Linked DNA regions of Homo sapiens. The protein of the gene in region 1 purifies or fractionates together with the protein of each later gene. This does not show direct contact. Each region holds a gene or a part of one and is shown in the gene's direction. Other genes may lie near its edges. The genes, in order: CSNK1D, PER1, FAM83D and FAM83H.

Evidence for each region.
Region 2: the proteins of CSNK1D (region 1) and PER1 purify together in Homo sapiens (affinity purification with mass spectrometry; 5 studies listed by BioGRID and IntAct, with this or other methods). This does not show direct contact.
Region 3: the proteins of CSNK1D (region 1) and FAM83D purify together in Homo sapiens (affinity purification with mass spectrometry; 5 studies listed by BioGRID and IntAct, with this or other methods). This does not show direct contact.
Region 4: the proteins of CSNK1D (region 1) and FAM83H purify together in Homo sapiens (co-immunoprecipitation; 6 studies listed by BioGRID and IntAct, with this or other methods). This does not show direct contact.

The regions. Positions count from the first base shown.
Region 1 is NC_000017.11:82,249,681-82,256,701, reverse strand, and holds part of CSNK1D (casein kinase I isoform delta), read left to right. Parts: intron 1-1,124; coding exon 1,125-1,273; intron 1,274-3,457; coding exon 3,458-3,686; intron 3,687-4,097; coding exon 4,098-4,268; intron 4,269-5,174; coding exon 5,175-5,323; intron 5,324-6,522; exon of another isoform or gene 6,523-7,004; intron 7,005-7,021. UniProt on the Homo sapiens protein: Essential serine/threonine-protein kinase that regulates diverse cellular growth and survival processes including Wnt signaling, DNA repair and circadian rhythms. It can phosphorylate a large number of proteins.
Region 2 is NC_000017.11:8,142,384-8,149,404, reverse strand, and holds part of PER1 (period circadian protein homolog 1), read left to right. Parts: intron 1-94; coding exon 95-146; intron 147-618; coding exon 619-761; intron 762-1,145; coding exon 1,146-1,224; intron 1,225-1,301; coding exon 1,302-1,408; intron 1,409-1,577; coding exon 1,578-1,731; intron 1,732-1,826; coding exon 1,827-1,935; intron 1,936-2,023; coding exon 2,024-2,155; intron 2,156-2,402; coding exon 2,403-2,508; intron 2,509-2,639; coding exon 2,640-2,811; intron 2,812-2,902; coding exon 2,903-3,033; intron 3,034-3,267; coding exon 3,268-3,447; intron 3,448-4,333; exon of another isoform or gene 4,334-4,411; coding exon 4,412-4,654; intron 4,655-5,528; coding exon 5,529-6,139; intron 6,140-6,569; coding exon 6,570-6,756; intron 6,757-6,946; coding exon 6,947-7,021. UniProt on the Homo sapiens protein: Transcriptional repressor which forms a core component of the circadian clock.
Region 3 is NC_000020.11:38,922,594-38,929,424, forward strand, and holds the start of FAM83D (protein FAM83D), read left to right. Parts: upstream 1-3,823; 5' UTR 3,824-3,849; coding exon 3,850-4,332; intron 4,333-6,831.
Region 4 is NC_000008.11:143,730,768-143,738,002, reverse strand, and holds the start of FAM83H (protein FAM83H), read left to right. Parts: upstream 1-4,223; 5' UTR 4,224-4,312; intron 4,313-4,849; exon of another isoform or gene 4,850-4,920; intron 4,921-7,235. Other genes in the region: IQANK1 (IQ motif and ankyrin repeat domain-containing protein 1), read right to left, coding at 2,065-2,149. UniProt on the Homo sapiens protein: May play a major role in the structural organization and calcification of developing enamel. May play a role in keratin cytoskeleton disassembly by recruiting CSNK1A1 to keratin filaments. Thereby, it may regulate epithelial cell migration.

The DNA.
Region 1 (7,021 bases):
TGCTGCAGCATTTGAATTTGACTGTGGCGTGAGGCTGCGGTGCACATTCCTGTGCATGTTTTTACCAGCATGTGTTTTCCATCTCTCTGAGAATCTTCTTGTGGTCGTTGACTTTTCATACGTAACGTCTTGGGTGAAGTGTCCAGGTCTTTCACCCATTTTTTCTAAAATGGATTTTTTTTTTTTTTTTTGACAGGGTCTTGCTCTGTGGCCCAGGCTGGAGCACAGTGGTGCCATCACGGCTCACTGCAGCCTCCATTTCCTGGGCTCAAGTGATCCTCTTGCCTCAGCCTCCCAAGTAGCTGGGACCACAGAAGCGTGCCACCACACCCACCTAATTTCCAGAATTTTTTGTAGAGACAAGGGTCTCCCTTTGTTATCCAGGCTGGTCTCGAACTTCTGAGCTCAAGCAGTCCTCCCGTTTCAGCCTCCCAAAGTGCTAGGATTACAGGCATGAGCCACTGCACCTGGCCCGTGTGCCTTTATAGTGTTGATTATGCCTTCAGCACTGATACTATGCAGCCATCTTTAAATTCTTCCTGTTGGATTTATTGTGTCTTTATTTTCACTTCCCTGATTTGTATATTTCAATCCTGGGTTACTGTGTAAATCCCCAAAAAGTTTTCATTGCTTTTGCTTTTCTCTTATCCAGTCAAATACTTCTACCAACATCGGAGTAATTGAACATATTTTCTTCTCTCACCTAACCCACGGTAGCTGCTTTCTCTCCTCCCATCTCCTGTGTGACGTTTCTGGCGGGCTCTGCTGCTCCTTTATGCCTGAGCTCTTTTCTTTCCCACATCGTGGCTGCTTTCTGTGTCTCCTGCCCCCCTGCCCTAGAAGACGGGAGTCGGGGAGGTGGGGCTTCGATCCCCTCCTTGTCCCCCTTACAGCTCCTGTCTGCTTGGCCCTCATCCAACGTCTGCCTCAGGCCATTTGCTAATAGATGGGGCCTAATCTCGAGGATGGGTCCCTGAGGAGCGGCGTTGCCGGGGTCTTCTACCTCCACCACCCCTCCCCCGTTCAGGATTGTCACCATGACCCCTTGGTGTGCACAGTGCAGACTTAGTGTGGAGCTGAGGCAGGGCCTGGACTGAAACACTGTGTCTGATTTCCTTGCCTAGTGGGCATCCCCACCATCAGATGGTGCGGGGCAGAGGGGGACTACAACGTCATGGTGATGGAGCTGCTGGGGCCAAGCCTGGAGGACCTCTTCAACTTCTGCTCCAGGAAATTCAGCCTCAAAACCGTCCTGCTGCTTGCTGACCAAATGGTAAGGACTGTTTCCTGACAGTTGGCACACACTTGCTGTCTGATAGAATCAGCCACTCGCTTGTGCTGTTCTTGCCATTATTATGGCCATTAATTCACAGAGGAAATGGAAATTTGCTGAGCCTCAGCCTTGAGGCTGCAGTGGCTCAGCTCACTGGCTTCTCGAGGCTCCGGTGGCTCCGCTCACTGGCTTCTCGAGGCTCCGGCGGCCCAGCTCACTGGCTTCTCGAGGCTCCGGCGGCCCAGCTCACTGGCTTCTCGAGGCTCCGGCGGCCCAGCTCACTGGCTTCTGGAGGCTCCGACGGCTCAGCTCACTGGCTTCTCGAGGCTCCGGCGGCCCAGCTCACTGGCTTCTCGAGGCTCCGGCGGCTCAGCTCACTGGCTTCTCGAGGCTCCGACGGCTCAGCTCACTGGCTTCTCGAGGCTCCGGCGGCTCAGCTGACTGGCTTCTGGAGGCTCCGGCGGCTCAGCTCACTGGCTTGTCGAGGCTCCGATGGCTCAGCTCACTGGCTTCTGGAGGCCCCGGCGGCTCAGCTGACTGGCTTCTCGAGGCCCCCGGCGGCTCAGCACACTGGCTTCTCGAGGCCCCGGCGGCTCAGCTGACTGGCTTCTCGAGGCCCCGGCGGCTCAGCTGACTGGCTTCTCGAGGCTCCGGTGGCTCACCGCACTGGCTTCTCGAGGCTCCGGCGGCTCAGCTCACTGGCTTCTCGAGGCTCCGGCGGCTCAGCTCACTGGCGTCTCGAGGCTCCGGCGGCTCAGCTGACTGGCTTCTGGAGGCTCCGGCGGCTCAGCTCACTGGCTTCTCGAGGCTCCGGCGGCTCAGCTCACTGGCTTCTCGAGGCTCCGGCGGCTCAGCTCACTGGCGTCTCGAGGCTCCGGCGGCTCAGCTGACTGGCTTCTGGAGGCTCCGGCGGCTCAGCTCACTGGCTTCTCGAGGCTCCGGCGGCTCAGCGCACTGGCTTCTCCAGGCTCCGGCGGCTCAGCTGACTGGCTTCTCGAGGCTCCGGCGGCTCAGCTGACTGGCTTCTCGAGGCCCCGGCGGCTCAGCTGACTGGCTTCTCGAGGCCCCGGCGGCTCAGCGCACTGGCTTCTCGAGGCCCCGGCGGCTCAGCTGACTGGCTTCTCGAGGCTCCGGCGGCTCAGCGCACTGCACTGGCTTCTCGAGGCTCCGGCGGCTCAGCGCACTGCACTGGCTTCTCGAGGCTCCGGCGGCTCAGCTCACTGGCTTCACAAGGCTCCGGCGGCTCAGCTCACTGGCTTCTCGAGGCTCCGGCGGCTCAGCTCACTGGCTTCTCGAGGCTCCGACGGCTCAGCTCACTGGCGTCTCGAGGCTCCGGCGGCTCAGCTCACTGGCTTCACGAGGCTCCGGCGGCTCAGCTGACTGGCTTCTCGAGGCTCCGGCGGCTCAGCTGACTGGCTTCTCGAGGCTCCGGCGGCTCAGCTCACTGGCTTCTGGAGGCTCCGGCGGCTCAGCTCACTGGCTTCTCGAGGCTCCGGCGGCTCAGCTCACTGGCTTCTCGAGGCTCCGGCGGCTCAGCTCACTGGCTTCACGAGGCTCCGGCGGCTCAGCTGACTGGCTTCTCGAGGCTCCGGCGGCTCAGCTCACTGGCTTCTCGAGGCTCCGGCGGCTCAGCTCACTGGCTTCTCGAGGCTCCGGCGGCTCAGTTCACTGGCTTCTCGAGGCTTCTGGAGGCTTCGGTGGCTCAGCTCACTGGCTTCTCGAGGCTCTGGTGGCTCAGCTCACTGGCTTGGAGGCCACCTTCTCGGTACCAGCATAGCACGTTTCCATTCAGTGGGTTCCTCAGTCTCTCAGGAACACACGTGATTCCTAAGCACCTCCGTGCAGTTTCTCTGCTAATCCTGGTGTGTAGTCTGTGCAGAGAACAGTGCTGGGAGAGACCGATGTCTAGTGGCGGGTTGTCCCCTCTCTGTCGCCTCACCTCTCTGTTTTGTGGGAGCTGAAGGCAAAGCGCCTAGGCCTGTGGAGGGTGGAGTGTGGAGGGTTGCTGCAGGCACCTGGGGGAACAATTTGGTCAGTTCGGCATCCCCCTCGCTAATTGTTAAACTACCCTGCTGTGGCTGAGGGGCAGGAACAATGCAGCCACTGATGTAGTGTCCCACAGTTGAGCGGTCCCTCCCTGAGACTGCCCTGGGGTGCCATCTCGCGCCCTTGCTCTGCTCACAGATCAGTCGCATCGAATACATTCATTCAAAGAACTTCATCCACCGGGATGTGAAGCCAGACAACTTCCTCATGGGCCTGGGGAAGAAGGGCAACCTGGTGTACATCATCGACTTCGGGCTGGCCAAGAAGTACCGGGATGCACGCACCCACCAGCACATCCCCTATCGTGAGAACAAGAACCTCACGGGGACGGCGCGGTACGCCTCCATCAACACGCACCTTGGAATTGGTGAGCCCCTGGGCATGGGGTCACTGACCTGGGGTGCCTTTGGGCGCGTCCATGCCTCAGCCCAGGGAGAGGCCAGCCTCTCGGGGAGCTGGGGCTGCAAGCGTGTCATCAGACCTTTGCGGCAGACAGGCTGGCTCGTGACTGCCAGGTGTATGGGGGCAGGCGGATGCTGGGACATTTCTGAGTCACCTGTGATGTGTTTGGGAATTTCCTTAGTATGCATGAGGGGCAGCTCTGGGTGAGAGTGATCTGGGCATGTGTGTCCGAGGTTCGTCTCCACTGGAAGTGCCAGCTGGAGTGATCTGGGCATGTGTGTCTGAGGCTAGTCTCCACTGGAACGGCCAGCCGGGTCTTTTGCTTTGACGTGAGCACGCAAGTGCCGTTCTTCACGCCTTTCCCTTTTCTTTTCAGAACAATCCCGAAGAGATGACTTGGAGTCTCTGGGCTACGTGCTAATGTACTTCAACCTGGGCTCTCTCCCCTGGCAGGGGCTGAAGGCTGCCACCAAGAGACAGAAATACGAAAGGATTAGCGAGAAGAAAATGTCCACCCCCATCGAAGTGTTGTGTAAAGGCTACCCTTGTAAGTCTCTGGAGGCCTCTTCTCAGCGGAGCTGCTCACAGGGGTTGCATATGTGTCGGGTGTGCCGAGACGGCTCAGTCTGGGTTTTGTCAGAAGAGTTGCTCACCTTCCAAAGGGGTGGTGGCAGGAAAGCGGGGCGCTTTTGTGTATGGAGGTAACAGCCTGCCCTCCTGTTCATCTTGACTTACTTGCCAAGTGCCCATCAGCGTGGGGAGTACTTGGAGGCCCTGGAGAGATGGCAGGCAAGGCAGGCCCGAGCCTCAGGGCCCCAAGTGGCTGGAAAGGGATGGACAGGCAGTGGTGGGGCCTCTCTCTGCAGTGGCTGCCCTCTCTGGCCCCCTCCAGGAGCTCGGGAGATTTCCTTTGCATTTGTAGGATTGCCCCAGGATACACACCTCAAATGAAACTAAATTGTGCTTTATGACTTCTTTTTTTTTTTTAAGACACAGTCTCACTCTGTCGCCAAGGCTAGAGTGCAGTGGCGTGATCTCGGCTCACTGCAAGCTCCGCCTCCCGGGTTCATACCATTCTCCTGCGTCAGCCTCCCCGGTAGCTGGGACTACAGGCGCCCGCCACCACGCTCTAGAACTTTTTTTTTTTTTTTTTCAGTAGAGATGGGGTTTCACTGTGTTAGCCAGGATGGTCTTGATCTCCTGACCTCGTGATCCGCCCTCCTCAGCCTCCTAGAGTGCTGGGGTGACAGGCGTGAGCCGCCGCACCCGGCCGTGACTTGAATACTTTTCGATGCTTTCTCAAGGCTTCAGGTCTTAGAAATCTGACAGGTGTTTTGCATCTGTCCTTCTCCCCTTGAGTGTGCAGCAGCAGGAGGTAGACAGCGACGTTGGCAGAGACACCTTGAGTCGCAGTTGGGTTTCATGAGTTAGCTTTGAGTTTCTTGTTTTGTAGCCGAATTTGCCACATACCTGAATTTCTGCCGTTCCTTGCGTTTTGACGACAAGCCTGACTACTCGTACCTGCGGCAGCTTTTCCGGAATCTGTTCCATCGCCAGGGCTTCTCCTATGACTACGTGTTCGACTGGAACATGCTCAAATTTGTAAGTCGCACTGCCAGCACGTTCGCTGAGTGTGGTGTGCGGGGGATGGCTTGTCAGTGAGAGGCCGGCGGCCGTCTTGTTGAGGGGCTGTACCATATAGGGAGTGTCTCTGGTTGTGAAGGGCAAGTGTGTAGTGGGCAGGACCTGGACTGAGTGGGTGTCTGCCTGCCAGAAAGGGGTGCCAAGAAGTAAGACGCCATTAGGGAACGCAGAGGGGTCCATGGAATTCCTGGGTGTGGACAGCAGGAGGCCCCTTCCCTCCCTGTCACCAAGCGGAGCTAGGGCCCAGAGCATGCCCTGGGGGCAGAGGGTGGGGGCTGGGGGTGCGCATTCCCATTCGCTGTGCCACATGGTCGTGGTGCCCACGAGATGAGTGGGGTTGGGGCCTGGTGAGGTGCTACCCGTCTAGCCTGACTGACCCTGTCATGAGCTGATTTTCCCTGTGGCTTTCTTGATGCGGTGTGAGTATGCAGTGGAGCCTCTAAAACAGGCAGCCCAGCCCTGGGTCCATGTCTGAGCTGAATTACTTTTCAGACACCGCTGTCAGAAATGAAGCTCCTGTGGAACTGTTGTGTTCCTTCATTAAAAACTTACTGTTTTGTTGTCAGTTTTAAATAGAATTTGGAGCTTTTCCAGGCAGCAGTCTGATGGAGGAGCAGAACTGCCTCTTGGGAGGGTACAAAAACGGCAGCCTTGTCCAGTAGTCGTGCAGGGGCCAGGGAGGGGCGGGGTCTCCAGATGCTGGGAGGGGTGCACTCTGTTCATCTTGACTTACTTGCCAAGTGCCCATCAGCGTGGGGAGTACTTGGAGGCCCCGGAGAGATGGCAGGCGAGGCAGGCCCGAGCCTCGGGGCCCAGGTGCCGGGAGGGGTGCACTCGGCAGGGCAGATCAGTCCCTCTGCCGGGGCTGTGCTGCCTCGGGAGGAATCAGAGCGACCCTCCTGCGGCATTAGAGTCACCCGGCCCTCAGAGCAGGCTAGGCCAGCGTTTTCCGTAAATGGCAGCATGAGGAGTCTGGGCGGTGCTGGCCGCACGGTGCTGCAGCCGCAGGTGTGTCGGTCTGTGTGTTGCCTGGTGAACGTGGCTGTGTCCAATGAGCTGTACTTGCAGGAAGAAGTGGCACCTGGGTTTGGCCCCGGGGCTGTAGTTTGCAGGCCCCTGCCGCACAGCATTGGCAGTTAGAATCTGCTTTTTCATAGGTTGCTGTCTCGGCTTAAAATCTGACCTCCCCACCCCCGTGCATCTGGATAGTGCAGCACAGATCCGGCTGCCGGCTGCTGGCCACGCCACCACACCTGCACAGGCTGTTGGAGGCTGCAGGGTCCGGACCCTGAGTGTACTCCTCGTCCGACCAAACGCTCTCATCCCCACCCCGCTTTCCTCCCCAGCTGTCACCATTTGGGGCCTGTCTTTGGCCTCCGATGGTTCCTGTCCCTCTCCTCTTTCTGCACGTGTTAGTGAGCATGTTCACAGAGCAGCAGGGGGTAGCTGCTGCCCATTTGGAAGTTTAAGGAAGTTCTGAGCCCACAGGGAGATGCCATGGCGAGTGGGGTTTTTTCGATTGTTGGGGGAGCTGAGAGGCCTGGCTCTGACCCCTTGTGGGGATGATGCTGTCATCCCATGAGGAGAAACGTGCAGCCTGTGGGGGGCTTTGCAGGCAGTCTCGTCCCAGTGCCCTTTGGTAGGTATTTTCTCACG
Region 2 (7,021 bases), about 74 Mb from region 1:
AGGGGCCGGGGAACCCAGACTTTCCCTTAGTGGATTCTTCGCAGCCTAGGGAAGGGGCAGGAAGCTGTGCTCACTCCTCTCCTGTCTGTCCCAGGTTCAGGCCTCAGGGACTTTACCCAGGAGAAGTCCGTCTTCTGCCGTATCAGGTAGGTGAGGGGAACTGGAGAAGACCTCTGCCTCCTTTTTTTTTTGTTTTTGTTTTTGTTTTTGCTTTTTGAAAGGGAGTCTCACTCTGTCACCCAGGCTGGACTGCGGTGGCACGATCTCGGCTCACTGCAACCTCCGCCTCCCAGGTTCAAGCGATTCTCCTGCCTCAGCCTCCCAAGTAGCTGGGATTACAGGCATGCGCCACCACGCCCAGCTAATTTTTGTATTTTCAGTAGAGACGGGGTTTCACCATGTTGGCCAGGCTGGTCTCGAACTCCTGACCTCAGGTGATCCGCCTGCCTTGGCCTCCCAAAGTGCTGGGATTAAAGGCGTGAGCCACCGTGCCCGGCCTACCTCTGCCTCCTCCTGCCCCCTCCCCAGCGTCTTTGCTGTTGTCTGCTGTGACCTTATTGTTGGAGGAGTGGGTGGCTCTCTGTTGAAAGTCCCTAATGCTCCTCTCTCCTTTGCTAGAGGAGGTCCTGACCGGGATCCAGGGCCTCGGTACCAGCCATTCCGCCTAACCCCGTATGTGACCAAGATCCGGGTCTCAGATGGGGCCCCTGCACAGCCGTGCTGCCTGCTGATTGCAGAGCGCATCCATTCGGGTTACGAAGGTGGGCAGGTCAGGGCCCTGGCCTGGTGGGGGCTGGGAGGAAGGACATTTCCTCATGGCCAGACATGAATTTGGGAGGCATGAACCACACCCTTTGAATTTTGGAACAAGAAAAGCTATTGTAAAGATGAGGATTTGAGCTCCTCTTAGAGGTAGAGTTGAATAAGGTGCCCAAGCTAGAGGAGGGCAGAGAAGAATGCCTTGCTTGCTCTCAGTCATGTTACTGATACAGGGCATAGGATTGGCCCAGACCATCTTTGGGCCCATAGTGCCCGGGGCAGAGCTGTGTGGCAGATCATCAGCCAGCCTGGGCCCAGGCAGAGTGGAGGGCTGAGGAGTTGGGCATTCTGGACGAAACCCAGTGACCACACTCTCTGTGCCTCAGCTCCCCGGATACCCCCTGACAAGAGGATTTTCACTACGCGGCACACACCCAGCTGCCTCTTCCAGGATGTGGATGAAAGGTGAGGATAGGACCTAGAGGAGACGAGGGCAGCCAGGGCTGAGGCCACGGCCACTCTGATGCCTCCTTCCCGTTCAGGGCTGCCCCCCTGCTGGGCTACCTGCCCCAGGACCTCCTGGGGGCCCCAGTGCTCCTGTTCCTGCATCCTGAGGACCGACCCCTCATGCTGGCTATCCACAAGAAGAGTGAGTTCCTCTCGCCCTGCTCGCCCTTCCCACTGTCCTGGGCTTTTGAGTGGCTGCCCTTGTGGTTGTGTCTCTTGGTGCCTTGGTCTCCTGGATCTCTAGTGGCATGGCCTCCCTCTTACTCAGCTCTCCCTCCCTTTGACCGCTCCTCCTTTCCCACTTCCATCAGTTCTGCAGTTGGCGGGCCAGCCCTTTGACCACTCCCCTATCCGCTTCTGTGCCCGCAACGGGGAGTATGTCACCATGGACACCAGCTGGGCTGGCTTTGTGCACCCCTGGAGCCGCAAGGTAGCCTTCGTGTTGGGCCGCCACAAAGTACGCACGTAAGTGGGCCATGCCCCCGAGCTGGCGTTGGGGATAGGGCAGTGCGGTGGGGGACAGGACCGGGCCAGGGCTGGATTCACTCTTCACTCTACAGGGCCCCCCTGAATGAGGACGTGTTCACTCCCCCGGCCCCCAGCCCAGCTCCCTCCCTGGACACTGATATCCAGGAGCTGTCAGAGCAGATCCACCGGCTGCTGCTGCAGGTGAGAGTAGCGGAGAGGGAGCCTGGGAGGTGAGAAAAGGTGTGGGAAGCCGGGTCAAGCCATCTAACCTGCCCTCTCCCTGCTGCAGCCCGTCCACAGCCCCAGCCCCACGGGACTCTGTGGAGTCGGCGCCGTGACATCCCCAGGCCCTCTCCACAGCCCTGGGTCCTCCAGTGATAGCAACGGGGGTGATGCAGAGGGGCCTGGGCCTCCTGCGCCAGTGAGTGACCTGCTCCTACCTCACCCTCTAATCGCCCTTTCCCCTCTCCTTCTTGGAACCAGCACTGCCAGTCCCAGAGTCTTGCCCGATCCTCCTTTGCCCTCTCCTTCCTGCCTTTTCCTTCTTGTCCTGCTCCCATCAAGGCGTCTGTGCCTCCCCACTGGTACCTTCTTGTTTTATTGTGCCCTTGGCCCCTGACACTGGCGACACCCCCTGGTTCTGCTCACTGTGGTGCTGTGTCCCACAGGTGACTTTCCAGCAGATCTGTAAGGATGTGCATCTGGTGAAGCACCAGGGCCAGCAGCTTTTTATTGAGTCTCGGGCCCGGCCTCAGTCCCGGCCCCGCCTCCCTGGTGAGTTGATGATGATGTGTGGGTGAAGAGACAGACCTGGGGGGTCCCCTGACCTTCACCCCCAACCCATTTGCTGTTTTTTTCCATGTGAGCTTGAGAAGGCTATTTTCCTCTTTCTCTCTTTGCCCCAGCTACAGGCACGTTCAAGGCCAAGGCCCTTCCCTGCCAATCCCCAGACCCAGAGCTGGAGGCGGGTTCTGCTCCCGTCCAGGCCCCACTAGCCTTGGTCCCTGAGGAGGCCGAGAGGAAAGAAGCCTCCAGCTGCTCCTACCAGCAGATCAACTGCCTGGACAGCATCCTCAGGTAAGGCCTGCCAGGCATCTTCTCCACCTCGGGCTCTAACCCTGCCCACCCCAAGCCCTGCTCTGATGCCCTGTGCTGTGTCCATCCCCAGGTACCTGGAGAGCTGCAACCTCCCCAGCACCACTAAGCGTAAATGTGCCTCCTCCTCCTCCTATACCACCTCCTCAGCCTCTGACGACGACAGGCAGAGGACAGGTCCAGTCTCTGTGGGGACCAAGAAAGGTAAAGATCCAATGCACCCTGCTCCCACTGCCCCGTCCTGGCCTGGTGGCCCTGTGTCTTTTCCCTTCTGCTTCTGGGCCCTCTTGCTCTGCCCTGCTCTCCTCCCCAGCCTCCTGGTCTCCAGACTGTTCCCTCTGTTCCCTACCACCATCCCCTTCCCCTTTTCCCTGGGATCCTCTCTCCTGACTTCCCAGTGGGGGTGGGGATGGTAACTGGCACCATCTCTCTGCACAGATCCGCCGTCAGCAGCGCTGTCTGGGGAGGGGGCCACCCCACGGAAGGAGCCAGTGGTGGGAGGCACCCTGAGCCCGCTCGCCCTGGCCAATAAGGCGGAGAGTGTGGTGTCCGTCACCAGTCAGTGTAGCTTCAGCTCCACCATCGTCCATGTGGGAGACAAGAAGCCCCCGGAGTCGGGTATGGGTGTGGAATTGGGGGGCAGTGCTTGGGCTCCACCGGTCTCCCAGCTAGAGCTCCCTCCTGCCTTTCCCCTCCCCTCTAGGGCCTGATGGAGAGAAGGAGGCCTCCCTTGACCTGGGGCTTGGGGCTACTGCTTCTTGCTCTCCCCTCCCTGCCAGGCTTCTCGGCTTTGCCCTTCCCCTGTTCTGCTTCTCGTATTGTTACTGTCAGTTGAAACACAGAGTCTGGGATAGAGGGTTTGCCCTGAGGTGCTGACCACACAGGGTCTGAAGGCAAGGAAAATTGAACATCCCTGAAGGGTCTTTGGATATTGACCTTGAAAATCATGAGGGGCTGGGCATGGTGGCTCAGGCCTGTAATCCCAGCATTTTGGGAGGCTGAGGTAGGAGGATCACCTGAGATCAGGAGCTCGAGATCAGCCTGGGCAACATGGTGAAACCCTGTATCTACTAAAAATGCAAAAATTAGCCGGGCGTGGTGGCGCGCGCCTGTAGTCCCAGCTACTCGGGAGGCTGGGACAGGAGAATCGCTTGAACCCAGGGGGTGGTGGTTGCAGTGAGCTGAGATCGCACCACTGCACTCCAGCTTGGGAGAAAGAGTGAGACTCCATGTCAAAAAAAAAAAAAAAAAGAAACAAGAAAATGTGTGAGGGAAGGCCAAGGGGTGGGCTTCTCTTCCAATGAGAGTTGTGACGGGGTCATCCCAGTAGAGTTCCTGGCAGGGAGTGGCCACTGGAGGGGCCTGAGTATCGTCTCTTCTTCTGGGCCAGCTTTGCATGGAGAGGAGGACCCAGGGCCAGCCGTTGGCAGAGAGGTGACCAAGAAACGTACATGGAGACCAGGCTTGGCTGTGGGGCAGAGCTGCCAGGGGTTGGCTAGGCTATCAGACAGGGAGGGTGTGGTATGGATGTGTTGACCCCTGAAGTGGTTCTGATGACCTTTCCCTATCTCACTCTCCTCAGACATCATCATGATGGAGGACCTGCCTGGCCTAGCCCCAGGCCCAGCCCCCAGCCCAGCCCCCAGCCCCACAGTAGCCCCTGACCCAGCCCCAGACGCCTACCGTCCAGTGGGGCTGACCAAGGCCGTGCTGTCCCTGCACACACAGAAGGAAGAGCAAGCCTTCCTCAGCCGCTTCCGAGACCTGGGCAGGCTGCGTGGACTCGACAGCTCTTCCACAGCTCCCTCAGCCCTTGGCGAGCGAGGTAGCCACCTGGGGCCTCCTGGAGCCTGCCCTCTGCCCAGTCTAGGACTGGATTGTTGGGGGGTGGGTCTTAAGGGAGGTGTTTCTGCTCCAGGGACCCAGGCTGGTGTTGCTTCCACCACTAGGCCCTGCCTAGGGACAGGCCCCTCGCTAGCTTCTCCCCACTAGGATGGGGTTCCGGGCTGCAGCCAGAGGAGGGCAGCCTGGGGGGATGGCACTGGGATGGGCAGGCAGAGGTGCTGTCTCCAGGTAAGCGACTTCAGGCCTAGCCTGGGGGCAGGGGCAGGAAGTATGCCCACTTAGGAGTCAGTTGTCACTGATGAAGAGACATGCATAGATTCTGGGCCAACTCTGGGTGGGGTCTGGGCTTCAAGGGCAGGTGGAAGGCAGCCCCTCCAGGTGCCTGAGGGAGATCCCCTGCAGGCAGACGCAGGACTCAGGACTGGGCTTTCCAGCCCCACTCTTCACTCCATTGCAAGCTAGGCAGAATACGGCCTCGATGGGCAGGAGGAATGCCTAGGCTGGCAGTGCCCACAGGAGTTTGGCGGACCAGAGCCATCTGTCCATGTGTCCATGGACTCACCCTGCTTCCTCCATCTGCCAGCATGCCTCCATCTTCCGCACACCCCCAGCTCGACCCCTCGTGTAACCTCTCCCTGGCCTTGTTCCTTTCTCAATAAATCCCCTTGTCCCTGGCTCCTGTGATTCTTCCCTGAAGGTGCCCCACCTCCTGAGTCCCCCGTTCTGTGTGGGTTGAGAAGCTCTCTCTGGGACCTTGGCCTGTCCTCTCCCTGGTCAGCGTGTCAGGGCAGTGTGGGTAGCAGGGGTACTAACCCCAGGTTGAGGTCCTTGCTAACCCTAGTCTCTCCCCACAGGCTGCCACCACGGCCCCGCACCCCCAAGCCGCCGACACCACTGCCGATCCAAAGCCAAGCGCTCACGCCACCACCAGAACCCTCGGGCTGAAGCGCCCTGCTATGTCTCACACCCCTCACCCGTGCCACCCTCCACCCCCTGGCCCACCCCACCAGCCACTACCCCCTTCCCAGCGGTTGTCCAGCCCTACCCTCTCCCAGTGTTCTCTCCTCGAGGAGGCCCCCAGCCTCTTCCCCCTGCTCCCACATCTGTGCCCCCAGCTGCTTTCCCCGCCCCTTTGGTGACCCCAATGGTGGCCTTGGTGCTCCCTAACTATCTGTTCCCAACCCCATCCAGCTATCCTTATGGGGCACTCCAGACCCCTGCTGAAGGGCCTCCCACTCCTGCCTCGCACTCCCCTTCTCCATCCTTGCCCGCCCTCGCCCCGAGTCCTCCTCACCGCCCGGACTCTCCACTGTTCAACTCGAGATGCAGCTCTCCACTCCAGCTCAATCTGCTGCAGCTGGAGGAGCTCCCCCGTGCTGAGGGGGCTGCTGTTGCAGGAGGCCCTGGGAGCAGTGCCGGGCCCCCACCTCCCAGTGCGGAGGCTGCTGAGCCAGAGGCCAGACTGGTGAGCACTGACCCCTGCGTCTGCCTGCCAGCCCCCACCCCAGCCCCGCCCCTCTGCCACCCTGTGCTGCCTGCTGTCTCTGCCAGGCTGGCGTCTCAGCCTCCAGGAGGTGGAGGGAGTCCCCAGCTGAATTTCTGAATGAGGCAGAAATTGGCTACCTCCTCTTTGAAGGGACAGTCCTGTCTGTCTGACAGGTGGTGAGGACATCTCAATAACTTCTGAGAGAGCATCTGTCACTTGGAAAGGGTCTGGCCTCACATCCCCACTCTTCGCCAGCTTTCTTCTCTCTCAGCCTGGCCCTACTGTCACGAAGTGGGGAGCAGAGACCACTGGGGTTGGATGTGCCTCTCCCCACAACCAGTAAGAGCAGTTGAAGGGAGGCCTAGGTGCTGACCCCTCCATCCCTCCTTGCCCCCCTCCCCTCCTCCAGGCGGAGGTCACTGAGTCCTCCAATCAGGACGCACTTTCCGGCTCCAGTGACCTGCTCGAACTTCTGCTGCAAGAGGACTCGCGCTCCGGCACAGGCTCCGCAGCCTCGGGCTCCTTGGGCTCTGGCTTGGGCTCTGGGTCTGGTTCAGGCTCCCATGAAGGGGGCAGCACCTCAGCCAGCATCACTCGTGAGTACCCCGCCTCCAGCATCTCCCAGGGTAGGGCAGTGATTGGGGAGCCGGGAGCCCAGGCCCCGTCTTGGCGGAGCTTCCTAAGGCCACTGGGATGGACATGTGGCCTTTGAGGGAGGCCTTGTGAGGTCCCAGGAGTGGGCATGCAGCCGGCCTGACTCCCATTGGTCTGCCCCCCACTTCACAGGCAGCAGCCAGAGCAGCCACACAAGCAAATACTTTGGCAGCATCGACTCTTCCGAGGCTGAGGCTGGGGCTGCTC
Region 3 (6,831 bases), on another chromosome or scaffold:
AAGTGCCACCGTGCGGGGCCTGGCTCTGCACACCCAGGAAAAGTCTGCAGACCCCCAGCCCTCCGCAATAATTCACCAGACCAGAAGCCACTGGTGTACAGAGAACACTTAAAAAAATGTATTTTATGTGAAAAAAAATTAAAACTCTGTATACTGTATCAGCAGCTTTGTGTAAAAATGGCAATCAAGAGAGTCTAATATATTTAAAACTTTTTTAAAAAAAATCTTCGCAGATCTTTGATATCGTACTGAGGTAACTTCCACGTAGCCCCTTGCCACGCGGCACCGGTGGGCCTTGGGTCCAAAACTGTGGCTCAGCCACATCCCAAAGGGGGCACATGTCCCTGGAGTTGCTTCCAGCTGCCAAGGCCTGTGACAGAATTCGCTGTTAAGAGTTTTTAATTAAAATTATTAAATTCCTTTTAATAACACCTGCTAGTGTGAGTGATTATTGCTGTGAGCTCACTTGAACAGTGCTGACTTGAATTCACAAAGAGGAGGTTCCTGGAATAGAGGGTGGGTGAGAGCTCCTAGTCTCTTCCCCCTTACCCCACCCCTTTCCCACAGAGGGCTTTCCCATGAGACCCCTGAAATAGAGGGAGCTCTGGGGGCTCAGACCTGGAGCAGATGTCTCCCCAGACTAGGAGATGGTGAAAACTGATGAATTCAAGAAAAGGTGGGTGGTTGGGAATGACCTTCATTCTGTCAAATAATCTCTTTGAAATTAACATGAGGCCGTATAGTAGCATATATTTATTCCATACATTTTCAAAGTTTTTCCTGATATTTATTTATTTATTTTTATTTTTTTAAGATGGAGCCTCACTCTTTCACCCAGTCTGGAGTGCAGTGGCGTGATCTCAGCTCACTGCAACCTCTGCCTCCCGGGTTCCAGCAATTCTCCTGCCTCAGCTTCCCAAGTAGCTGAGATTACAGGCGCTCGCCGTGATGTCCAGCTAATTTTTTGTATTTTTAGTGGAGATAGAGTTTCACCATGTTGGCCAGGCTGGTCTCCAACTCCTGACCTCAAGTGATCCTCCCGCCTTGAGCTCCCGAAGTGCTGGGATTATAGGCGTGAACCACCACGCCCCGCCTCTCATGACATTTATATGTAACAAGGGTGCCCCTCTCCTCTGTCCCATTCTTGGAGTGAACTGACATGTCCTGTCCTCTTCCCCCTGCCCCATTCCACTCTTTCCCCTCGTGTGCTTATTGTGGGGAAGTACGATACTATAAAGTACTTCACCTTATGACAGCAATACAGCAGCTAAGGCCCCGGCCATTCTCATTTTTTACCTCGAGCATTAAAGGCATAGAGAAGCTATGTGGTTGCACAGCCTCAGACCACAGTCCTTGGTCCTTGTCCCACACAGAACTTTGTTGGTGTTTTTCTTGAAAGAGGATGAAAAGGGTGTCGGATCACAAGGTCAGGAGTTCGAGACCAGCCTGGCCAACGTGATGAAACCCCATCTCTACTAAAGATGCAGAAAATTGGCCAGGTGTGGTGGCATGAGCCTGTAATCCCAGCTACTCAGGAGGCTGAGGCAGGATAATCGTTTGAACCCTGGAGGCGGAGGTTGCAGTGAGCCGAGATCACGCCATTGCACTCCAGCCTGGGTGACAGGGCAAGACTCCGTCTCAAAAAAAAAAAAAAAAAAAAAAAAAAGAAGGTGCTCTCTTGCAGCCTCCCGGACCCTGGATACCAGCGCAGGGACACATGGAAGTCCCCACACTTATTCTTGAGAAACTTCACAAAGGGATGGGGATGGGGAGAGGAGAGGTAGAGAGGGAGAGGCGTCTCAACAGCGGCAGGCATTCATCCATTTAAAAAGGTTATTGGTTGCTAAATAATAATGGTAACATCTCACATTTATGACCCACTTTTCATTTACATAAAAAAGATGACGACTGAAAATTGACTGTTGGATTTAGCTCTGTGGAACTCATGATGAACCTGACAAGAGGTTTTGGTAAAGCAGTGGGGGTTTTAGCCTGATTGAAGAGGGCTGGAAGGGAACTGGAGACAGCAAGTATAGACAACTGGTTTGAGGGTTTCTTTTCTTTTCTTTTCTTTCTTTCTTTTTCTGAGACAGGGTCTTACTCTGTCACCCAGGCTGGGGTGCAGTGGTGTGATCATAGTTCACTACAGCTGCAAACTCCTGGGCTCAAGTGATCTCTTGCCTCAGCCTTCCCACTGGCTGGGACCATCATGAGCACTGCCATGCACTAAAAGTTAGGCGCACCACCATGCCCAGCTAACTTTTGTATTTTTTTGTAAAGACAGGGTCTCACTATGCTGCCCAGGCTGGTCTCAAACTCCTGGGCTCAAGTGATCCTCTTCCCTTGGCCTCCCACAGTGCTGGGATTACAGGTGTAAGTCACCATGGCCAGCCACATCTGAGATTCTATGCTGCAAAAATAAGAAGTGAGATGGGGAGCTTTAGAGGAATGTAGGGTCAAGAGAGGGTTGTTTTAAGATGAAAAATATTTCAGCATGCTTGTAGGCTGATAGAAATGAATCGGTAAAGAGGGAAGCTGATGTTCCAGGAGAAAGAAGAAGATTGCTGGAGCGATGCTGGTGAGTAGTAGAGGGGCTGGAAATGCCCAGGCAGAGGGGTTGGGGTTGGATGGGCACAGGCACAGTTCATCAATGCCCAGTATACGGGCAGAGATGCAGACAGGAAGGTAGACTAGATGGCCGCACGTGGACGTTCCCTTCTTACTGTTTCTGTGTTCTTGCTGACATGGAAGACAAGCTGTCAGAGAGGAAAAGGTAGAGAGAATGAGGGAAATGCGGCCTACCAGGCAGTTTTTTTGTTTGTTTGCTTTTGTTTTGTTTTGTTTTGTTTTTAGATGGAGTTTCGATCTTGTCGCCCAGGCTGGAGTGCAGTGGTGCTATCTCGACTCACTGCAACATCCGCCTCCCGCGTTCAAGTGATTCTCCTGCCTCAGCCTCCCGAGTATCTGGGATTACAGGCGTACACCAAGACACCTGGCTAATTTTTGTATTTTTAGTAGAGACGGGGTTTCACCGTGTTGGTCAGGCTAGTCTCAAACGCCTGACCTTAGGTGATCCGCCCTCCTCGGCCTCCTAAAGTGCTGGGATTACAGGCGTGAGCCACCGCGCCCGGCCTCCTAGCAGGCAGTCTTACGGATTATGAATTTAAAACATGACCAGTCAGTAAGCATGGTTACGCTCTTTTTGTTTTTTCTTCAGCCCTGTAGGGCTGCCGGGGTGCAGGTGGAAAGTAGGGTATAACCACGGTTGGTTGGGGTTTTACAAGGCAAAAATCGATGAAATGAGAGAAGACTACCCGAGGGTGTAATCAAAGGAGCAGTCCTAATACGATGAGCCGGTATTCTTTGAATGAATGAATACATGGTTAAAGGCAGGTGATAAAGGCGATATGGTTGGCCATGCCAAAGCACTGAGAGCCTAGGAGCAGCGTGGCCAGAGTCTCCGGGAGTCGGCACCTGCCTCTCCTCGTTGTCTAGGCCTGACTGTCCCTGGCCTTGCACGGCCGCGCAGCGGGGCGACCGGCAGGGGGCGCGCTGGGATGGCCAGGAGCTCGGCTCTCCCCGCTCTGTCCCTGCTCTGCGGCCCGCCTCGCCCCTGCAAGTTTAAATTCCTCTTAGCAAGCCCAGCATCGCAGCCAATAACGCATCAGGGGGCGGAGCCGTAGAGGCTTGCGCCCCGCCTCGCTCCGCTATTGGAAGGAAAGCAGCCAATGGGAGAGCCGAGGCGGGGAGGTGCGGCCAATGGCGCGGGCCTGTTTGATTCAAAGGTTGCCTATAAAGCGGGACTGCACGCCGGTTTTTGTCCGAGGGCTGTCGAGTCCGAGCGCCGCCATGGCTCTGCTGTCCGAGGGCCTGGACGAGGTGCCCGCCGCCTGCCTGTCGCCGTGCGGGCCGCCCAACCCGACCGAGCTGTTCAGCGAGTCACGGCGCCTGGCTCTGGAGGAGCTGGTGGCGGGCGGCCCCGAAGCCTTCGCGGCCTTCCTGCGACGCGAGCGCCTGGCTCGTTTCCTGAACCCCGATGAGGTGCACGCCATTCTGCGCGCGGCGGAGAGGCCGGGAGAGGAGGGCGCGGCGGCGGCGGCGGCGGCCGAGGACTCGTTCGGCTCCTCGCACGACTGCTCTTCGGGCACCTACTTCCCCGAGCAGTCGGACCTGGAGCCACCGCTGTTGGAGCTTGGCTGGCCCGCCTTCTACCAGGGCGCCTACCGCGGCGCCACGCGTGTCGAGACGCACTTCCAGCCCCGCGGCGCTGGCGAAGGTGGCCCCTACGGCTGCAAGGACGCTCTGCGCCAGCAGCTCCGCTCGGCGCGAGAGGTGAGCGGCCCTCCAGGGCCCTGGGTCGCACGGGAGACCCCCTTCAAGAATGGGAAATTGAGGCCTGCTGGGAGTACGGGCCGGGGCCACTACCTCCTCTGCGCCCTACCGGAAGCGCGCGCGGGCTAGGTGGTCCCAGGGTCTCCGACTCACACCCCACTCTGCGTGTCTCCCCCGGATCCCCCGGGCCGCTCCTCGTGGCAGGGGATAGTGGGAAAGCCTCGGTTCCCAAGGATGCGAATTGTGCCCGGGTTCCATCTCCTAACGTTCATATCCCTGAAGGAGGGACCAGAAGTACTCTGAGTTCCAAATTTCAGTTAAAATCAAACTTGGAAAATTGCCTATTTCCCTGTCTGTCAGCCAACGCTAGATCCCACTTTCAGGAGCTTCTTAGGAGACTCATTACCAAAGAACTTACGCAGGGAAAGTTCCAGAAAGATGGTCTCCAGAGACAACTACGGGGCATTAGGAAGCAATTATTATTGCTAATTACTTTCATGCATCTTTTGCTGTAAAAAGCAGATAAACACGAGAGTGGCAAAGTGAGAGCCCTGCCGCTTTTTCTTTCTTGTCTTTTTTTTTTTTTTTTTTTTTTGAGACAGATTCTCTTTTGCCCAGGCTGGAGTGAAGTGGTGGGATCTCAGTTCACTGCAACCTCCGTCCCCCGGGTTCAAGTGACTCTCCTGCCTCAGCCTCCCAAGTAGCTGGGATTACCGGTGCCCGCCACCACGCCCGGCTAATTTTTGTATTTTTAGTAGAGACGGGGTTTCTCCATGTTGGCCAAGCTGGTCTCGAACTCCTGACCTCAGGTGATCCACCCGCCTCGGCCTCCCAAAGTGCTAGGATTACAGGCGTGAGCCACCGCACCCGGCCCCCTGCCGCTTTTTCTACTGCCAGAGACTGGAGGGGAAACTGGGGCAAGGGGTTTGTTTTCCATAGGCTGGGTCTGTGCCAGATTGCAGTGGTCTCCTAAAATGCAGATACATTTGCATTAGATCGGCTTCTGTATTCATAGTGGGTTTTGGTCCTACTGTCTGACTCTTAGTATGGCATGGTCATGGGTGCAATGGAGGTCTTGTCTGCTTGCCAGCCTCGATAAAGCTGCAGCAGGGTGCTGGGGATCAAGGAGGAAGAAGGCAGCCTGCAGGTGGGTGTGGCACATAGAGTGTCGTGGCAGACACCTTGGTCTGGAGCCATGGTCAGGTTGCTTGCTGACTGGCAGTGCCCAGCTCCCTGGCTATCTGCCTGTGCCAGGGACATGGCAGATAAAGCCCCAGCCATGTTAAGACTTGTTAGGGCTGGTACCTGAGTGTGTCTGAGTGTGGGTGAAGATACCAGTGCATTGTCAGGTTGACATGTCCAAGCCCCGACTCTCACCAATGTTCTTAATGTTCTTTCCCTGACTGGTGGGGTTTCAGTGGTAGTGGATACAGTGACCTAGTGCCTTGCCTTTGAGGGAGTGGTTGTGGGCTGCAGCTAGGCTCTTACCAGCCCTGAGGTGCTTTGGGTGGACTGAGGGTTTTTTGATGCAGCAGACATTTTCCTTGCGGGTTCAGTGAAAAGATTAAAAAGATGGAAAAGGCAGACTTGTGTAGGTATGCATCCCCAAAGCTCATGTCCAGTAGAACTTGAGCACTTGGAACCTGAAAAATGTAAAGAACTGGTCTGTATAGTGAGAGCTGTGGATTGTTCTAGTCTTTTGCCCAGCCCCAAATTTTAGTGATAGCAAAAGGGCACTGGAACTAGAGGCCAGAGGGAAACTATTAAACTCACGTGCTGGCGTGAGGAGGGGATGGAGCCAGGAGCTCAGACTCTCCCTCATCTCACGGGCATTTTGTAATACTGACATTTCCAGATAGAACCTGCTGCCCTAGTCTAGCTACCCACAGTTCCCTCCGAGATGCTGTATTTGGAACCTGGGCAGTTTTAACTGAGAAAGGTGGTACATTACCTTTAAATCCAATGAGTATTGGCTGGGCACAGTGGCTCAAGCCTGTAATCCCAGCACTTTGGGAGGCTGAGGCAGGCAGATCACGAGGTCAGGAGTTCGAGACCAGCCTGGCCAACATCGTGAAACCCCGTCTCTACTAAAAATACAAAAATTAGCTGGACGTGGTGGTGCGTGCCTGTAATCCCAGCTACTTGGGAGGCTGAGGCAGGAGAATTGCTTGAACCTGGGAGGTGGAGGTTGTAGTGAGCTGAGATCACACCACTGGACTCCAGCTCTGGGCGACAGAGCAAGACTCCCTCTCGGAAAAAAAAAAAAAAAAAAATCCAATGAGTATTTTCAGTGTGTCCGATAGATGCCAAATTATTTGCTTACTCATTGCCTGCTGTGTATCAGACACTACCATGGCTGGGGCCACAGGGGAAGGCATCATCCTTGCCAACACTTGAGAGTGGACAGTGTGCTGATGGGAAACAGTGAGGAGTTTGCTGCAGGTACTGCGGAAAGGGCTAAAGAAAGAAAGTCTCCGGAGTGGCAGTGACCTCAGAGCT
Region 4 (7,235 bases), on another chromosome or scaffold:
TGCCGGCCACTGCTCCGGGGTCTGAGCTGGTGCTGGTCCTTGCTGGGCACATGGAAGGCTGTGGAGCAGGGGACCCCATGCCGGCCCTGGGCCCCGAACTGCTGAGGCTCCATGAGGTCCAGCTGTGCCTGGCCCAGGAGCAGCTGCTGCTGGAGGACCGGTGGCGGCAGGTCCAGCTGCAGATGCAGCTGTGGCGGGAGGAGCAGCTATGGCTGCAGCAGCTACAGGAGGAGCAGCTGTGGCTGCAGCAGCTACAGGAGGAGCAGGCCTGGGTACACGTGGAGGGGCTGCAGCTGGCCGTGGCCCTGGAGCAGCTCCGGAGTGAGGGCTTCGAAGCACTGCAGACCCAAGGCCAGGTAAGGCCTGGATGGGGTGGCGGGAGGGGTCCCGGACTGTTGTGTTGGTGCGGTGGCCACTGCAGCAACCTAGGGATGCCTGTGGAGGCCCAGGAAGCCAGGCTGGATGCAGGGTATCTGTGGGCCCATCTTCACATCTGCCAAGTGAAGCCGGTGCCCGCCACACAGGGCACTGCAAGACCAAGGGACAGCAAGCCTGCCCAGGCTGGCCCAATGCTTGGTGGAAATGGGCACTGAGGGCAGATACTTGTTCAGGGACAGAGGTGTCCCTGCAGCAGACCCAGGCATGCTGGGCCAGAGCCGTCCAGGGCAGTGTATGGGCTGCGGTGCAGGGCGAAGGCCTGGGTGTGCAGTCAGTAGGTAGCAGAACTGAAGAGCACAGCCCCCACCCCTGCAACCCAGTTTCCTGGCTGCCTTGCTGGTCCACCTGCCCTGCCCCCCGTTTATTGGAGTGCAGTGTACTCAGGGCTAGAGATTGCGGAAGCAGCATGCGGCACCTGTGCCCATTATCCTCATTCCAGGAGGGCGGCTGGCCTCAGACGCAGCTGGGGCTATTTTGGGGAACTAGGATCTAACCCCAGCCTGGCGTGGAGGAGCGGTCACCATCATCCCACCTGCTCCTGTGAATCTGGGAGCTCTCTGGCAACCAGGGGTGTTAGGCCAGGCCCACTCTAAGCAGAGGGGCAGTCTGGGGAGCAGGATGGGGTGCTCTCTTAGCAAGCACAGACCCCAGTGCAGGCCTGGGTGCTGAAGGACCCCAGATTTGCAACCTGGAATGTGTTCACAGCCAGCATAGAGAATAAATGGGAGCTGGAGCAAGGGAGTGACAACAGTGAAGGCGGGGCTGGGGTGGGGGAGGGTACTGGGGGAAGTCTCCTTCCTGACCCACAGGAAAACCCAGCCCAGGTGAGCTGTCACCATCCAACCTGGAAGTGACTATGGAGAAGGTGACTGGGAGCAAAGCCGCAGGCAGAGGGCAGCACAGGATGGCCCAGATGGAGCAGAGAGTCAGAGAACACATGCTTAGACTGAGAATCCCCAACTTGGACTCAAACCCTCCTGTTTCAAAACCCATTTTTGGCCATCTAGGCGCCTCCCACTGGCTCCTGCCCCCTTCCCACCTCCATGTGTTCCAAAGCTGGGCTTCTCTGAGTGCTACCCCTAGGCCCCCACCCCAACCCCAGGGGTATAAGATTCAGGCTTGGCCGGGCATGTGGCTCAAGCCTGTAATCCCAGCACTTTGAGAGGCCGAGGCGGGCGGATCACCTGAGGTCAGGAATTCAAGACCAGCCTGGTCAATGTGGCGAAACCCCGTCTCTACTAAAACAAAAATACAAAAATCAGCAGGGCGTGGTGGCGCACGTCCATAATCCCAGCTACTCGGGAGGCTGAAGCACAAGACTCACTTGGACCCAGGAGGCGGAGGTTGCAGTGAGGAGGGATTGCGCCATTGCACTCGACTGGGTGACAAGAGCGAGACTCCGTCTCAAAAAAAAAAAAAAAAATAGATTCAGGCTCAAGGTCTGAGATGAATGAATGGGCTCTGAACCCTCAGTCAATCACACCTAATCCCAACTCAGAGGTCCCCTAAAAGCCACTCTTGGAAGAAGGGCTCTCCTCAGAGGGGGTGTCTCTCGGTGGCTACATAGAAGGTCTCACAGGTCAGTGTCTGGGTGACAGTGCTCTGGAGGTCAGAGGGTGCACTTACCAGCAGCAGCTCTTGTCTTGGGCCCAGGGTGGAGCGTCTGCCACTTCCCAGCTGCAGCTTTGGGTCTCCCCTTCTTACTGTCCATTCTCCTGGGGGGTGGGTAGGGAAGGACCAGGGAGAGGGTGCTCAGAGTGGCAGAGGGCAGGGGCAGTGGCAGTGGGGAACAGGGCACACCATGGGCGCCTGAGTGGATGACAGCAGGAACATGGGCTCCCCTGAGGCTTCCCAGCTGGTGTCCTGTCTGCCTGCCCGCCCCGGGTGTGTGCCCAGAAGCTTGAGCCGGGATGCCTGGCAAGAGCACTTGGCCACCTCCCGTCCCCCTGGCCGTGGCTTGCCTGCCCCTCCGCCCCAGGCTCAGCCCATCCTGCCGGGCGCAGGATCTGGAGTCTAGCACTCTTCTCCCTGCCCCAAGCTGCTGGGTTGCCAGTGGGCCGGTCTTTGTTCTCACCGTAATCATGAGCATGGCCCTCTCTGCTGAAGCCTCCATGCCTCTCCACTGCCCTGGGAAGCCAGCCCACCCCTGAGCCTGCTCCCCAGCCCACCCAAGGCACTCACCCCTCCACACCCTCAGACCTTATGTGGTCCCGGCTCTGGCAGATGGTGGTGTCAGGCCCTGGAGCAACACCCCTCTCCCTAGTCCACACAGCTGACCCCCAAGTTCATTTCCCTGGGAGGCTCCTCCTGCCTGCCCCAGCCTGTCCGGGTCCTCCCCGGTGCCCCATGCCCCTCACCCGCTGCAGCACAGTTGCCTGGGCACTGGTCTGACCCCCCACCCATGTTTCCAGCATGCTGGTACCAGTGGGGTGGCACTGAGTGTTTGGGGAAAGAACAAATGAAACTGGGACTGACCCTGAAAACAGAAAATAGGATCACATGGCAAGAGGAACAAAGAGAAAGGCGACTGATGACCATCAGAAAGGGTTGAGGCAGGGCCAGTCCTTGGGGTGGGAGTGGCAGGGGCGAGGGGTGGTGGTTTGGACAGATGATCCAGTGTAGGGCAGGGCCTAAGAGGGGGAGGGGCCCTAAGTGAGGGCCTGAGGGGGACCTGGGGGACTGGAGCACCCAGGGGCAGCTCGGGGTGGTGTGTGGGGGTTGCTGTGTACATGGGGGGGCGTCTGGTATGAGGCTTGGTGTGCACACTGGGTCCCTTGTCCGTTGGGGCTTGGTTTTTGCAGAGTCCCTGTGTGTACACAGGGTTCCGTATGTGAGGGAGGTCCCCTGTGCTCTCAGAGTCAGTGTGAATATGGCATCCCCTGTTTGTGTGTGGGGTTGGTGTCTGAGAAATCTCATATGCAGGTGGGGTTCCCTAGGTGTGCGGATGTCAGCGTGTTCGTGGGTGACTGGCATGGGCAGGACTCGGTGTGCTTGTGGCTTCTGTCTTCCTGAGGAGTCTCCTGTGCTTGGGGGTTGGTGTACATGAGGCACAGGTCATTCGGGGTCCGCATGTGCATGGGGGGGTCACTGCGGCAGAGTCCCCTACAAGTGTGGGCATCGGTGTGAGGGGGTGAGGGAGAAAGATGGGGGACCCCAGGTACTTGTGGGCATCAGTGTGTGTGGTGGGGGTTGGGGTCTGGGGGTCCTCTGTGTGGGCGGGGTCCTCGTCTACGTGTGGGGCGCTGGTGCGGTGGGAGACCGGTGTGTGGTGAGGGGATCCCCTGTGCTCTCGGGGCTCCCAGACCCGGCCCCGCCCGGGGCTCGACGCCGCCCCACCGTCCTCACCTGTCGCACCTGCCTCCCCCAACTCGGCGAGGAGGCCAGAGCTCCGCCCCTGGCGTCGGGCTCGCTCGTTTCCTAGCGACTGAGCCGGAACTTCCGAGTCACCCCGACTTCCGGGGCGAGGGTCAGGGGTCAGGCTGGGAACTTTGAGCCTTGGGTCAACAGTTGGGCTCCCGGGGGTCGGGGTCTTTGAAGTGCGGGCCTCACGGTCTCCGGCGGCGCTGGGCCGGGGTCTCCGGGCGCGCGGCCGCAGGGCACGGGCGGGTCGGGGCGCGGGCCGGGGGCGCGGGCTGGGGCTGGCGGCGGGCGCGGGGCGCAGGAATGCGGGCGCGCCGCGGGTGGGGCTGCCCCGCCCCCAGGTGCTGCCCGGGCAGGCAGGAGGCAGGAGCGACGGGCGGGGCGGGGGCGGGCGCGTGAATCAGGCCGGGCGGGCCGCGGCAGGGAGTGGCTGCCGGACCGACCGGACCGCGAGGCCGCTGGGCGGCGGTCGGCTCCTGCTGCCCCTGTGCCGAGACCCCGCGCACCTGGCCAGGTAGGGCCCCCCTCCCCCGGCCCGAGCGGGGCGGGGCGAGGCGGGGGGCGGGCGCCCCTTGGCGCGGTCCCACTTGGGCTACCCTTGCGCCCACACCTGGGCCGGGGCCGCGCGACCCAGAGAGGGGCGGTGGGAGTGGAGCGCGGCCGCGTGCGCGGGGCCGGGGTGGCGGGGCTGCTCGGACAGGGGGCGCCGCTGTGCGGATATGGACGCGAGCGCCCCCGCACGACGCCGGCCCGAAAAGAGCCGAGGGGGAAGGGGCCCGGGATCCGGGTCGAGCCTGCCCGGCCGTCCCGACTCGCTCCCGCCCTCGCGGCCTAGCTGGAGTCTGGGTGCTGGGCACGGCCTGGACCCTTCCCTGGGGACATCCGCCCGGGCCGCCGTGGACTGGGGTGGCCAGGGTGCGGCCTGGATCCCCGCGTGGCGAGCAGGGCGAGTGATGGGAGTGCTGCCCCTCGCGCCCACGTTCCTGGGCTGGGGTGGGCGGATAGGGCACCCAGCGGCCGCAGCCGCGAGCTCGTAGGGTGCACTGACCCCGTTGGGGGCTGGGGTGCCCACTCCGCAAGTTATCACTGAGCGACTTCCGGTCTGTGAGCCCCGTCCTCCGCACCCCACCTTTCCGCCGCCTAGAGCCTCCGCGCCCTCCTGCGCCCATCGGAACTTGGCACAGGTTCACCCCACTTTGTGTAGGAACTCCAGATCCTTCCATGGGGTCCTCCTTCCAGATACTCAGGAACCCCACTTCCTGCCAGGGTGGAGAGGATGGGGTCCTTGAAGGCCAGCTGAGGGCCCTGACTTCGAGTCAGAGGTCAGGGGTCAGCAAGCAGAAGAGTGGATTCGTGCTGAGTCATTGCCCATGGGTGGGTTCCGCGCCCTCCCTCCCTTGGGCAGACGTTTGGTAGGCAAATGTGTGGGCATGCAGGCCACTGGGGTGCTCCATCTTGGGCTCGGGAGTGGCTGCAGCCCCGTCCATAGCCCAGGAGACACGTACCCATGAAAGGAGACGACGTGAGGAATGAAGCAGTTGGAGGTCTGGGCATCACCCTGTGAGGACGAGGCATGTCTGCTGGGAGGGCTCCTGGCCACGGGGGCTTCCACTGTCTGGATGGTCCCTGCCCCCATTACACACAGCCTGGAGCCTGGACACTGAAATCCAAAGGGACAGTGGGGGTCCTTTCTAGAGTGTCCCCCCAGTGTCGGGAAGTACCCTCAAACAACATCAGCAGGGTTGTTCCCCCTGCCCTGTATGGTCAGACACCGCCCCTACAGACAGGCTGGCAATGGTGAGTGGGCTCCTCGGCCCAGCCAGACAGGCCTACACCTCACCCCCATGTGGTTGGCCTCGATCTGCCCCTGGCACAACCAGAGCGGTGTGCCCTAACCAGCCCCATATGTCAACCATGAGGACGGTGCCCCAACAAAGAAATGTTGGGACAGCTTCTCCCAAGCCGGTTGGCATCTAGGGCTGTTGAGTGGCACCAGGTATTTCCCATGTCTCAACTCCATGTCACCCCCAGGGGCACCAGGCAGGACGGCTGCCTCCTGACCCCAACATTCTCAGCCAAGTGGCTCCGGCTAGCACCCATGTAGTCCAGCTGGCCGGCATCCATCCTGTCAGCGCCCAGGGGCACGCTCCTCTGGGCACCTTCCTAGCCAGGGCCAACATTCAGGAACCTGTGTGCTAGGCGGGGACAGGTGTCCTGCCTCCCTCCCCAACCCGAGGAGCAGTGGGATGGACTGAGCAGTCCCTAGGGCTCTCCTTCCAGGGAGAGGTACCCAGGTAGCTCAGTGACCCTGTGTGCGTGGGCCCTGGGCGCTCCCCATCTGACACCTTTCTGGAGAGGCCAGGCCCCCGCAGGGACCCTTTGGAGAACAGAGTGGGCTGTGGGGCAGCCAAGCATGGATGGTGGTGGCGAGCCCAGGACCTGGAAAGGTCCCTGCTGCCCTGGATGGGGGCTGGTGGGGACAGGACTCTGAGCAAGTGGAGAGCCAGATTTGGGCGATGTGGAGTGCAGGCCCTGCAGGGCCCTGTGGGCACCAAGGGGCTGTGGCCCAGGGAGGTTTTATCTGAGAGGGACAGTGACAAGAAAGAGGTCAAAGGTAGGCCAAGGGAAGGAGGGGGTGCTGGGAGACAGGGACGGAGTCTAGGGATCAGTGTTCCAGGACTGGGCGGTCATAGAATGGGCTGTGGGAGCCCAATTGTGAAACCCTGAGGATGGGGAGGAGGTGTGGCCCGGGACTATGTGTGGGGCTTAAGGTTGCCATTCCAGGAGGAGGGTAGTCACAGCCCTGTTTGCTGCGCTCACCTTGGGCTAGGCGTGGTGTCATGTGGACCCTCAGCTGTGTTGTGCAGTAGAGGTAGGCCAGAGAGGTGCAGTGACCTACCCACAGTCTCCCAGGCAGTCAGAGACGGACACATGGGCAGCATGGGCGGCACCAGCTTGTCCAGTAGGCACAGTGCCAGGGGTCCGTGAATGTCTTAAAATAAGAAAAAAGTGAATATTATAATGATGAATGCAGCCTGGATTGTTTGTCTTTAAGCCAACAGTCATGAAATATTTGGGGGGGGGGGTTCGTTTTATTTTTATTTTTTGTAGTGATGTGGTCTCACTCTGTCACCCAGGCAGGAGTGCAGTGTCACAATCATAATTCACAGCAGCCTCCAACTCCTGGGCTCAAACAATCCTTCTGTCTCAGCTTCCCAAGTGCCTGGGACTATGTGTGCACGCCACCATGCCTGCCTAATGTTTAAAATTTTTTGTAGAGATGGGGTCTTGCTGTGTTGCCCAGGCTGGTTTCAAACTCCTGGCTTCAAGCAGTCCTCCTGCCTCAGCCTCCCAGAGAAAGGAGAGACAGGGCTGGGATACCTGTGCCCCAGCCCTCTGCCAGTGTCCCCTCAGCTAGGGGCATCCTAGGGTCTGGG